Linked DNA regions of Homo sapiens. The protein of the gene in region 1 interacts with the protein of each later gene in a biochemical or structural test. Each region holds a gene or a part of one and is shown in the gene's direction. Other genes may lie near its edges.

The links.
Region 2: the proteins of GARS1 (region 1) and NAE1 form a complex in vitro, tested with the Homo sapiens proteins (one study listed by BioGRID).

The regions. Positions count from the first base shown.
Region 1 is NC_000007.14:30,590,136-30,598,077, forward strand, and holds the start of GARS1 (glycine--tRNA ligase isoform 1 precursor), read left to right. Parts: upstream 1-4,742; 5' UTR 4,743-4,786; coding exon 4,787-5,008; intron 5,009-7,942. UniProt on the Homo sapiens protein: Catalyzes the ATP-dependent ligation of glycine to the 3'-end of its cognate tRNA, via the formation of an aminoacyl-adenylate intermediate (Gly-AMP).
Region 2 is NC_000016.10:66,802,101-66,806,992, reverse strand, and holds the end of NAE1 (NEDD8-activating enzyme E1 regulatory subunit), read left to right. Parts: intron 1-966; coding exon 967-1,081; intron 1,082-1,166; coding exon 1,167-1,216; intron 1,217-3,874; coding exon 3,875-3,984; 3' UTR 3,985-4,115; downstream 4,116-4,892. UniProt on the Homo sapiens protein: Regulatory subunit of the dimeric UBA3-NAE1 E1 enzyme. E1 activates NEDD8 by first adenylating its C-terminal glycine residue with ATP, thereafter linking this residue to the side chain of the catalytic cysteine, yielding a NEDD8-UBA3 thioester and free AMP.

The DNA.
Region 1 (7,942 bases):
ATAACAATCTTACAAATATTGAAATTTCAGAAAATAGAGAAGAAAGAAACTCTGATTTTATAAAGCCAGGCCAAAACCTGGCAAAGATACAAGAAAAGAAAACAATACACTGATTGCCTGTATGTTCATTTTTCATGAACATACAGGCAAAAATCTTTATCAAGATGTTAGTAAATAAAATCCAGCAGAATATAAGAAAGACAAAACCAAGTTGAATTTGTTAGCATTACACTAAATGGAGAAACATTGAACACTTTTCCCTCTAATATCAGGAACAAGGCAAGATGTTCATTCACTGCTTCTATTCAATATTGTGCAAGATGACCTAGACTACGCAACCACACAAGTAAAAGAAAAAGGCATAAATATTGGAAAGAAAGAAGTAAAACTGATTCTATTTACAAAGTATATGCATATTAATACAGAAAATCCTAAGGAATCGGCCGGGCGCGGTGGCTCACGCCTGTAATCCCAGCACTTTGGGAGGCCGAGGCGGGTGGATCATGAGGTCAGGAGATCGAGACCATCCTGGCTAACAAGGTGAAACCCCGTCTCTACTAAAAATACAAAAAATTAGCCGGGCGCGGTGGCGGGCGCCTGTAGTCCCAGCTACTCGGGAGGCTGAGGCAGGAGAATGGCGTGAACCCGGGAAGCGGAGCTTGCAGTGAGCCGAGATTGCGCCACTGCAGTCCGCAGTCCGGCCTGGGCGACAGAGCGAGACTCCGTCTCAAAAAAAAAAGAAAATCCTAAGGAATCTACAACCCCCGCCCCTACAAAACAAATAATAGCACTAATAAGTGAAAGTCTCAATGTCACTATACAAAATCAATTATATTTCTCTACATTAACAGCAAATCAATGGAAAATAAAATAACATTCACAAGACTCAAAGAATAAAATACTTAGGAATATATTTATCAAAATGCATTCAGTGCTTTAAACTATGAATTCTCCCCAAATTAAACTACAGGTTCACAATTCCAGCAGGTATTTTTACAAAGTTGATAAGTCAATTCTAAAATTTATATAGAAATAGAAAGAACCTGGAATAGAAAAACAATTTTGAAAAAGAAGAAAGGGTAGACAATATACATTATTTGACTTCAGGAATTATCCTCAAGCAATAGTCATCAAGGAAGTGTGATACTAGCATAAAGATTGATAGATAAATGGATCATTAGAACAGAATAGAGACCCCAGATATAGGTCCACCTTATATGGTGAACTTATTTTTGACAAAGGCACTAGAGCTGATCAATGGCAGTAATTTTTTGTAAGCCCTACTTTTTTCCAACAAATGATGCTGTAGCAACTGGATATCTATATGGGAAGAATGAACTTTGACTCTTACCTAAAACTATACACAAAAGTTAATTCAAGATGCATCATAGACCTAAACATAAAACTACTAAAATTTTGGACAAAAATATGGGTGAATATCTGAGAGTAGGCAAAGATTTTTTAGAACCCAGAAAAAAAACAAATTGATAAATTAGACTTCATCAAAATTAAAAATTTCTGCTTATCAAAACCATCATTAACAAACAGGCAAGCCACAGACTGGAAGAAAATATTTATGAAACATGTACCTAGCAAAGGACTGTATCCAGCATATCTAAATCTCCTATAATTCAATATTAAAAAGCAAAGACAAAAAATGTGGATGTTTCACAAAAGAAGAGGTACAAATGACCACTAAGCACATGAAAACACAATCAACTCTATTAATCACCAGGAAAATGCATACAAGTCACAATGAGATACAACTATTAGAATAGCTAAAATCTGGAAGGCCGGCAACATCAAATGTTAACAAGGATGTGGAGCAACTAGAACTCTTATATATTGCTCTTAAGAACATAAAATAATACGACCACATTGGAAAAACTTGTGACAATCTAATAAAATTAAATATGCATCTATTGTTTGACTCAGTAATTCCGCACCTAGATATTTACCCAAGAGAAATGAAAACATATAGCTACAAAAAAAGATGTATGAGAATGTTCACAGCAGCATTATTCATAATGGTCTACAATATGAAACAACCCAAATGTCTATCAACTAGTGAATAAATTAATAAATTATAGTATATTCACACAATGGGATACTTCAGAGCAAAAAAGGGCAAGTTTCTGATATGTGAAACAATATGGATTAATCTCTCACACATTATGGTCAATTAAAGACATCAGACACAGAGTACATATTACATTATTTCATTTATACAACAGTCTAGATCTAAGAGGAAAATAAATGAGAATAGTGATCGCCTGGTTGTGGAGGGTGGGATGACCGGGATGACATGCAAGGGAACTTTGTGGAGTCAGGGGAAAATGTTCTTTATCTTGCTTGGTGTTGGGGTTACAAAAGGATATTGCTTTGTCGAAACCCATTGAACTATACATTTTTGTTCATTTTAATGTATGCAAAATTTATTTCCCTCAAAGAAATGAACTTTAATAAAGCAAGAAAAATATATGATCATACATACACAATACTAGGGCCTCTTGCAGGGCACTTAAAGAGCCCAACAGAGAAAGGGGCTAAACTCACTTGAAGCTTCATTAGCTATGTAGAAAATCTGCCTCTGCCCCCAGCTCACATTCTGGCCCAACACTCACTTAGTTGTGTGACCATGGACAAGCTGTTTGATATCTCAGTCCCTTGAATCCCACATGTGAAAATTCTGAATAACTATAGAACCTATCTCACTAAATTGGTGAATAAATTCCATGAGATAAATTAGAACTAACTGGTACATAGTGAGTGCTCAACAAACATAAACTATTATCATTATTGTGCAGACACAGTTTTCAAAAGAAAACTGTTTGGGAAATTCTTCCAAGGGCCATGAAGAGCCTACTGAAGTGTCCTGAGAAGAGAAGGGACACAGTCAGATTTGCCTTTCAGAAATAATGACTGGGCCGAGTGCAGTGGCTCACACCTGTAATCCCAGCACTTTGGAAGGCTGAGGCGGGCGGATCACGAGGTCAGGAGTTCGAGACCAGCATGACCAACATGGTGAAACCTCGTCTCTACTAAAAATAAAAAAATTAGCTGGGTGTGGTGGCGCACGCCTGTAATCCCAGCTACTCAGGAGGCTGAGGCAGGAGAATCGCCTGAACCCGGGAGGCGGAGGTTGCAGTGAGCCAAGATCACGCCACTGCACTCCAGCCTGGGTGAAAGAGCGAGACTCCGTCTGGAAAAAAAAAGAAAAAGAAAAAAGAAAGAAAGAATGACTGAAGCAGCAGTGGGGAGGATGAATTGGTCGGGGAGGAGGGAAGAACGGATTTGGAGTCCTTTCAGGACTGTCCTAACATGAAAATGGATGAGACATTATTGATCTAAGGAATTTTTTAGAAATAAAATAGTTTTATTCAAAGGATATAGAATTTCAACATTTTAATAAAAATCTAAATAAAAATAAAAGTAAAACTTAAAATGATTTTTCACATTTAAAGATATTAAAATAAATTCAAAATTGCCTAGTAAAATAAAAGCCAAATAAATTATAATTAATATCAAATCTTGAAATAAAAGTGTTTAAAAATATAATTGTTCAATATTGCAGAAGGTTCTTAAGCAACCCACCCTGCTCATGTTGAATTGTAAGTACTTCTCCAGAACTGCACACTGGAACGGGAAGAGAAATAACATGGACTTTCACACCATTAGGAAAGGAGACTTCATTATACTGAGCCCGTCTACTCCTGCACACTCCTGGGGTGGGATTGTGGGTCACAGGGAGACGTACGTGCATACTGCCGAAGAGCTCCCAAGTGGCTGGCTGCACCAGTTAACACTCCCCTGAGCAGTGTAGGGGAGTCTCAGAGGGTCACTTGGCATTTTCCATCATTTTCATTTTAGCCATTTTTGCAGGTGTGCGCAATGCTGTTTTTATAACCAACACATCATTTTTCTCTTCCTTTCCTGGAGGGGGAACCCAGCTTTTCTAGGCCCTCCACCCTTTGGGCAGGAGGAACTGGGTGTGTGGGGCGGGGGGAAGCCATCTCTGGGTGGTTGGTCAGCTGGGGCCTAACCACAGGAGGCAGATAGACTGAGGCTATGCCAAGCAGAAAGACTTATCAGGCACCTCTTGCCTTTCCTCATCTCTGCCGGTTCAAATCCTGCTCGCCCCGCAAGGGCAGATTGGAATTTACCTTCTCCAGAAAGCCTGGGGTGACTCTATCCCCTCACTCCTCCTCCCCCGTTCGCCAGCTTTTGTCTTGACATCGGCGGACCAAGAATGTGTGACTCTGGGCAAATCATTAACCTCTCTGGGCCTATTTCCTTATCTGGGGAACATCTGCACTTGAGCAACAGAAGTCTAAGATCCCTATCTGATTTGATGTTTTGCGACCCTTTTAAGGCGCAGGGCGCGAAAGAACAGAAACAGAAGTGTCCGTTCAAGTAGGTCGGCCGGGGTGTCACTCGTATAAAAACCTATGCTTTGAAGGTTCTCGTGTGTCTCGGCCTGCAGGTCTCGCTCAGAGCTGTGTCCCTGAACATCCACCCTGCTGGGGTGGCTTGACGCACTTCTGTGCAAATCTGTTCGCTCGCAACCCTACCTACCTCTCTCCCGAACCGGAGAAAACCTTCGGCGGGGTCCTTCCGGGTTTTGTGTCGAATCTGCGGCGGCGACCCGGCGCCGCGTCACGCGGTGGTGAATGTGCGGCAGCACGCGCGCCGCGTCGTTTACGCGGCGATTTCATCATGCTCCGAGCCGGGCGGCGCGCGCCGCTTCCGTCGCCACCCTCTCTGGACAGCCCAGGGCCGCAGGCTCATGCCCTCTCCGCGTCCAGTGCTGCTTAGAGGTGCTCGCGCCGCTCTGCTGCTGCTGCTGCCGCCCCGGCTCTTAGCCCGACCCTCGCTCCTGCTCCGCCGGTCCCTCAGCGCGGCCTCCTGCCCCCCGATCTCCTTGCCCGCCGCCGCCTCCCGGAGCAGCATGGACGGCGCGGGGGCTGAGGAGGTGCTGGCACCTCTGAGGCTAGCAGTGCGCCAGCAGGTACCGGTGTTTTGCGCTCTCCGCTAAGCCTCCGGCTCTCCTCCCAGGGCCTTCTTCTGGTCATCCTTCCCTCCTCCCCGGGGAACTGTCCTCCTCTTCGGTTACCCCTTTCTTTCCCTTCATCCTCTGGCGTCTTCTTCGCCTCCCCCACTTTGGTCCCAAGTCCCCCGTGCGTCAGCCACCTCCTCTCCCGCGGACCTCCGTCCTCCTCTCTTTTTGGATGACTCCCTGGAACCCCTCCGACTTCCTGCGTCCCTCTCCGGCTCCGTTCTCCCTTCCCCATTCTGTCACAGCCCGCGTCTCCTCTATTTCCAGTGGGGCTGGGATCTGTGACCCTTTGGTTGTCCTCGCCTCCTAACTGAATAACCTTAACTTCAGTTTTCCAGGCTCTGCTGTACTCTTTGTGCACCCTGGGTGGAAAGCCTCCTAATTCTTTCAGTGGTCAATGATGAGCCGAAAAACTGCCGGTTCTTTCGTCTTACGGCCAGGCCCTTTAATCTTTAGGATGCTTTGATAGTGTTTCCCCCTTAACATCTTCCTTCATTCAGTGCTTAGTTTAGCGGAATGATTGGCTGAGAAAATAGAATTGAAATGTGGATGTGGGGAGGTGTCGAACTTTTCTATTAATGCTGTGAACTCATCATCCTTTGCTCTTGTCATCTTTTCTGGCTTCTGAAAAGGCCGTTTGGAACCAGTGAGCCCTCAGATCGTAAACCTGGGAAACTAAGTGTTGCGGAGTGAAGTCAGCCATCCTTAGTATGGAATATTTTGACATTTGATTTTCCCGAAGGTGAGGGAAGGTTTCATGGGCTGAAGGACTTGGTGATTTAATATAGACCTCCTTTTCCTAGGGCACTGCCATAGAGTTTAGAATTTAGAGATATCAAGGAAAAGATTATTTCAGATGATTCCCATATGCAATTAGGGAGAGCCAGAGCTTGCAGTAGGACCCCGGAGATCATGACTTAGTAGTAAACACCAAACGGGTTTCTCCTGCATGGGCGCCTGATGCAATAATTTGCCTTAGCTACAGAGGGTGGAACCCTATCTCGGAAATAATTCATTGGGGCATAGCTGCCGCAAATTCAGCCACTTTGCCATCTGTCCTCTTCGCTGGTTTGAGCCTGACCGATTTTAATAAATAGCCTTTCATTTTGAAATATCACCACGGGCTTAACTTTTTTCTTCATGATTGGTGTCAGAACACCGATTGCATATTCTGTCTCCCTCCACCCACCTTCCACTCCACAAATAAAATTAGGTGTGGTTCCTTTGTCTTTTCTTAACTTGCCATTTTAAAAAATATCCTTCCCTTTAGAAGGAAGCATACAACTAATTTGGAGAAAAAAAAAAACCACCACACCCAAACCCCTCCCTCTGCCACGTTAGCCTGGAACTGCAGTGAAAATCATCCATCGGTAGTTAAGACAGGATCTAGTTAACTAAAGTAAACTTTGATCGCGGCAGCTTTCCGATGCTACTAACTACTGTCTTGTGTATTGTTTATGTTGTCTTGATTATTGTTTTGTACTTTAAGATATTTTCCGAATATACGAGTTAGTTGATTTAAGTTAGTTTGGATATTTTTTTCTAATTTTCCAAGAACACACATATATCAGTTAGTTAATTGTGTGAATTACTGAGTCCTATGTCAGCTGAAAAATAATTTAAAGATGATCTAATTTTACCCATTTTTTGTATATGGGGAAATGAGACACACTGTCACCCCTATCCATTTTGGATAACTCCATTGTGAAGTGCAATTGAAAACCTTTCCGGAGTGGGATTTTTACTTAATGACTGGTCTTGTTAGTAGCACATGTTTCATAGAAATTTGTTAATCTGGAAAATGAATGAAGTGAGTTTGTCACTTTAAGAAAACAACGGTTAGTATTTGTGGCCAATAATAAAATTCAAACTTTGGGGAAATTTTAGAATTTGGGAAGACTCGTATCTTTTGCTGTGAGCTTGGCAGCTTCACAGTCCTTAAAGATATCTGTGATGAGATGAGTGGTGATATTAACAAACGTGGATTTTTTTTTGATAGTATTTGGATAATCTGCGTAACTCAGTGAACCAGTGTTTTCCAGGTGACCAATGCATGATGTTATGAAATCAGGTATTGGTGAAAGAGCCATTCAAAGCTTAAGATACATTAATAGATTTATTCTGACAGTACAAAAAATTCATTGCTATAGTTTCTGAGTTAGAAATAACCTTGAAGAAGCTACCACTTGTCAGAGTTTTGAGGTAGTATCAAAGAATATCCACAATTATCCGAAACGGCTTTTAAAATTATTTTTCCTTTTCCACCTACATATGTCTTTCTTCATATACTTTACCCAGAACGTCATATTACAAAAGAAGCAGACTTTCCACATTGGTCTTTTAGGATTTTTCACAGATTAAGGTTACCAAAATAGTAAGTGCCAAACTCAAAATTTAAAAACCCATGAGGAAACAAGCCACCTTGAGTGAGACTTAGGGGAAATGATAATAGAATTAGATCCTCCAAAAGTATTAGAATAATCACATATTTTTAAAATGCTTAAGATAATTTTTAAAATAAAAGAAGTACTCAAAAACATGAGCAAAGAACAAGAGACTACCAAAAACAATCACACAGTGTGAAAATGAAGCACATATTGTATGGAAATGGATCACTGAAATTAGAAACTCTGTTGGGTGCCCAAGGGCTATATCAATTTAACAACTTTAATTACTCAGCTGAAAGTTTTTCATCCTATATAGGTAATATTTTGTTTGTTTACTCAGATGACCTATTCCACCATATTACTATAAATATGGAATTAGTATAAGTTGTTGGAAGTTAATAAAATAATTCAGAAATATTAGCAAGGAAAAAATTCCAACTGTAAAGAGAAAGGCAAAGGAAGATGAGCCAGCAGTGACTGAGAAGAATGGTCAGAGAAG
Region 2 (4,892 bases), on another chromosome or scaffold:
GACTTCCTTTTGGCATGTCAGTTGGCTTCTGCAGTTAACATTCCAAAAAACCCAAGTGGAAGGTACAGGGCTTTTTATGACCTAGCTTTGGAAGTCATACAGCATCACTTATGAGCTAAGTAACTTAATCTCTCTGTGCTTTAGTTTTCTCTTCTATAAATGGAGATAACTATACATACTTCATAGGACTGTTTTGAGGATTCAATCAATTAATATAGATATAAGGTCCTTAGAACAGTGTCCAGCATCTATTAATGCTCAATAAATGTGACCTATTATTGGCCAGGCATGGTGGCTCACACCTGTAATCCCAGCACTTTGGGAGGCCAAGGCGGGTGGATCACTTGAGGCCAGGAGTTCGAGACCAGCCTAGCCAACACTGAAACTAAAAATAGAAAAAATTAGCTGTGTGTGGTGGCGCACTCCTGTAGTCTCAGTTTCTTGGGAGGCTGAGGCATGAGAATCATTTGAACCCGGCAGGCAGAGGTTGCGGTGAGCCGAGACTGCACCACTGCACTCCAGCCTAGGTAACAGCAAGACTCTCTCTCAAAAGAAAAAAAAAAAGTTACCTATTATTAATAGCTTTATGTCCTCAGTGTCATTTATCATTTAGTCTTTTAGAATTGGAGAATAACTTTTATAAAGGGTATAAGTAGGACATTACTTTCTCATTCATTAAGTTCTTCTATCAAATAATTATTAAGCACTATGTGCCAGATGCTTTTCTAGACAGTGAATATGATGCAATTAATAAAGATTTAATTAAATTCAAATTTTTACTAGGTTTTAGTTGGTCTCTGATTATAGGTTTGTGATATGTGCAAATATTGGTCTCATACTTTGTTATTTTTGTTCTTCAGTTTCATACATATTTTGACTAGAACATCTGAAACTAGATTAAATAAAGGAGTTGGCCATTAATTTTGAATCACATTTATTTTAATGAAAACTAACTTTTATTTTTAGGAGTATCTAACTATCAAGTTGAAGAAGATATAGGAAAGTTGAAGTCTTGTCTCACTGGCTTCCTTCAGGAATATGGTTTATCTGTAATGGTGAAAGATGATTATGTCCACGAATTGTGAGTATTTTTTAGGGTATCTAGGAGATGATTCCACACCTGTCATAAGGCTAATCAAAATTCATGTCTCTGTGGTCTCCTTTAGTTGCCGATATGGAGCTGCTGAGCCACATACCATTGCTGCATTCTTGGGGGGTGAGTTCCATATATGAGAAGACTCACCTGTTGTTACATAGTACAGTTACTATTTTAATACAAAGTTTTGTCGTCTAGCTATTTTAATTAGGGAGGTCAGTGAAGCAGGATGTTATATTTCTTTCTTTTTTTTTTTTTTGAGACGCAGTCTCACTGTTTTGCCCAGGTTGGAGTGTATTGATGCCATCATAGCTCGCTGCAACCTCAAACTCCTGGGCTCAAGTGATCTCTCGCCTCCGCCTCCTGAATAGCTGGGACTACAGGCATGTGCCAGTAAGCCTGGCTAATTTTTCAATTTTTTGTAGAGACAGGGTCCCACTATGTTGCTCAGGTTAGGATATTTATTCAGTTGCCCCTATACTGGTCTCCCTGCCTTCCATCTCTCCCACTGCCATCCAACTTAAACTCCTTAAGAGTCATTAATCCTTCTAAAGCATAGCTCTGATTGTGTCCTTTTACTAACCCTCTGCCCCACCAATATACATAACACTCTACAACAGTCCTCCAAGCAAGTCCAAGGACTTTGGCTTGACGTTAAAAAACCCTGTGTTTTGGTTCCACTCGGCCTTTCCAGCCTTGGTTTTATCATATTACTTGCTTTCCCCCCAGGATGCCCTTTGATTTCCTGCTCCTAGATCTTTGCTCCTCTGTGCCTATTTGCCTTAAAAATATGTTTTTCTGCATGTCCAAAACCTATATGTTCTTCAAGACCCAACTCAAAAATGACATGTCTTTCATAAAAGCTCCCTTTACTTCCCTCCCTCACTCTACTTCCCCCTTGTCTTAGTCAGTTTGGGCTGCTGTAACAGAATATCATAGACTTATAAACAATAAAAATTTGTCACAGAGTTCTGGAGGCTAGAAGTCTGGGATCAGGGTGCCAGCATGGTCAGGTCTGGTGAGCGCCCATTTCCTGGTTCATAGGCAGCTCTCTCTTCTGTGTTCTCACATGGTGAAAAAAAAAATGGCAAGAGAAGTCTCTGGGGTCTCTTCTTAGGGCACTAATCCTATTCATGAAGGTTCTACGCTCTTGACCTAATCACCTACCAAAGGCCCTATCCTCATACAATTACACTGGGGGTTAGGATTTCAACATATGAATTTGAGGGGGAAACGAACCATTCAGTCCATAACACCCCTCAAAAAAAATTACTGTCCTGTGATCTCCTGTAGACTGAGCTATTAGCTTGTGGCATTTTCCTTCTAGATGTTGAATGTTTTAAAGGCAGATTTAGGTCTAATTAATATTTGAAGTGTTCAAAATGTAAATGCATCATACAGACCTAAGAAAACTATTTTCTAAGCAAATCCAAATTAAAGCCTGATTCAGAATAATTTATTTTAAACTAAAACCAAGTAGTCTCTTGTGCCAAAGTAGCAAAATTTTCTGCCAATTCACAGAAAAGGGCAAATTATTATTTATTCAGATGCAGTCCAGAATCTAAGAAGAGGTACAGCCAGATGGATGGACTGGATGACTTAACTATAGCAGAAAAAAGTATAAATTGAAGGTTTTCTTTGTTTTTTTTTTTTTGTTTTTTACTTCTGTGCATTCTGTAATCATTTTGCACAGTGCCATTATATCCCTTCACTTCCTTCAGGTTTTATTCAAATGCTGTCTTCTCTGCGATGCCATCCCTGACTCTCCTATTTAAAATACAAACCCCTTCTCTTGTATTTATATCTCCCTTATTTGCTTTTTCTCCTTAGCACCTATGGTCAGTTGACATACTACACATTCTATTTATTTGTAAATAAATTCTCTCTCTCTTGCTGCTAAAAAGTAGCATGAGGGTAAGTGGATCTTCTTGTCTTTTTTCCTTACTGTATCCCTACTGCCTAGAACAGTATTTGGTGCACAGTAGTCTCAAATTCTATCCAGTCGGCTGAGCGCGGTGGCTAATGCTTGTAAGGCCTCCGCTTTGGGAGGCTGAGGTGGGCGGATCACTTGAGGTCAGGAGTTCAAAACCATCCTGGCCAACATGGTGAAACTCCATCTCTACTAAAAATACAAAAAAATTATCCAGGTGTGGTGGCAGGCATCTGTAATCCCAGCTACTTGGGAGGCTGAGGCAAGAGAATCACTTGAACTTGGGAGGAGGAGGTTGCAGTGAGCCGAGATCACGCCACTGCACTCCAGCCTGGGTGACAGAGTGAGACTCTAGTCTAAAAAAAAAAAAAAATTCTATCCAGTCCATGAATATTTGGGAAAGAGGAATCTTCAGGTTATAGAAGATGCACAAGTTTTTTTCTTAGTAGTTTTTTTGTTTTGAGTAAATATAGCGGTCTGGCGATATTTAATATAGATCCTTCCTAAATTACAAATGCATTCAGAACAAATATACCTTTCTCCTTTTTTATTATAAAACAGATACAAGGTAAAATTCAAATGCAGCAGTAGGGTGTCCTTTGAGAATCTTTTATGCCTGTGTGTATCCTTTAAAGTTTGGTCAACCACACTACTGTTTAGATTTCCTTTAATAACAAAAAGAATTATAGGCTTTTATGTTGATATGACTCAGTAAGCTAACTGCATCTGTTTTGGGTCACTTTAAAACACCTTTGCTTTTGAAAAGGAAAAGTTTCTTTACAGAATTGAGTATGTAACTCTTGAAGTTTACTCTTTCAAAGATTTGCTTTTCTCCTTTTTCCTTTCAGGAGCTGCTGCTCAAGAGGTCATCAAAATAATCACCAAACAATTTGTAATTTTTAATAATACTTACATTTACAGTGGCATGTCACAAACTTCAGCAACTTTCCAGTTGTAGAGTAAGCAAGCACCTTAAGTAGTGTGTTAATGATTGAAACTGTAATTGCCTTCGGGTTGTGCTTTAGTCTGTAAAATTCTAAAGGAGAGCTGCTAAATTGTTTTCTTAATAAACATTTTTCTCATTTGTAATAATGTAGTCTTGTTCTTTGTGGGGAGGGGAAAGGAGACAGTCATTTTCCTAGAAAATGAATCCTATCCATTTCTCACTGAGCATCAATATTGGCTTGCTATTTCAAAGTTACTTGTCATAGATTATCCTTGTGTTTTATTAGAGATAATTAAAAATTTTTTTTCTTACCATCTTCAATAATGAATTTAAGCCATGTGCAGATGTTAGCTATGGACATTTTAGGACCATCATCATTTGTTAAAATGAATAGAATTTAAAAAGATATTTCTGGATATGTAGTTTTCCCAGAAAACAAGACCATCCCCTTGTATGTAGTATTATCTTAATTAACTTGAGTTTTGGCTGCCTAACCTACTTCTTGAAATTTTATGGGGTCATTCTACTCATATTATATATACTCTTAAATTTAATCACATGGGACTAATAGCATTCACCAGCATATTAGAGGGCAAAAAAAAAAAGGAAGTAGTAGATGCAAACAGAGTGGAAATCCAGAATCCAGAAGTGGGGGCAGTTCCCGGTTTTGGGCTTGATGTATTAATACTTAGGGCTGAGGAACGTGGTCCGTGGTGCATGACTCTTAGTAGCTAAGGCCCCTAATCTGCTGCAACTGTCTCTGAGGCCAGCGTCTCTTAAGTGAGAACCTGTTAGATTTGCTAGGGTACCTCACAGGGACTTGGTTTTCCAGACGCTAATGTGTCAGCCATTCTTTGGCTGTTCTTCACTGTATCGGGGACCTTCCCCTCGCCTTCATCGCCTAGCAGTCCCATGGGCTG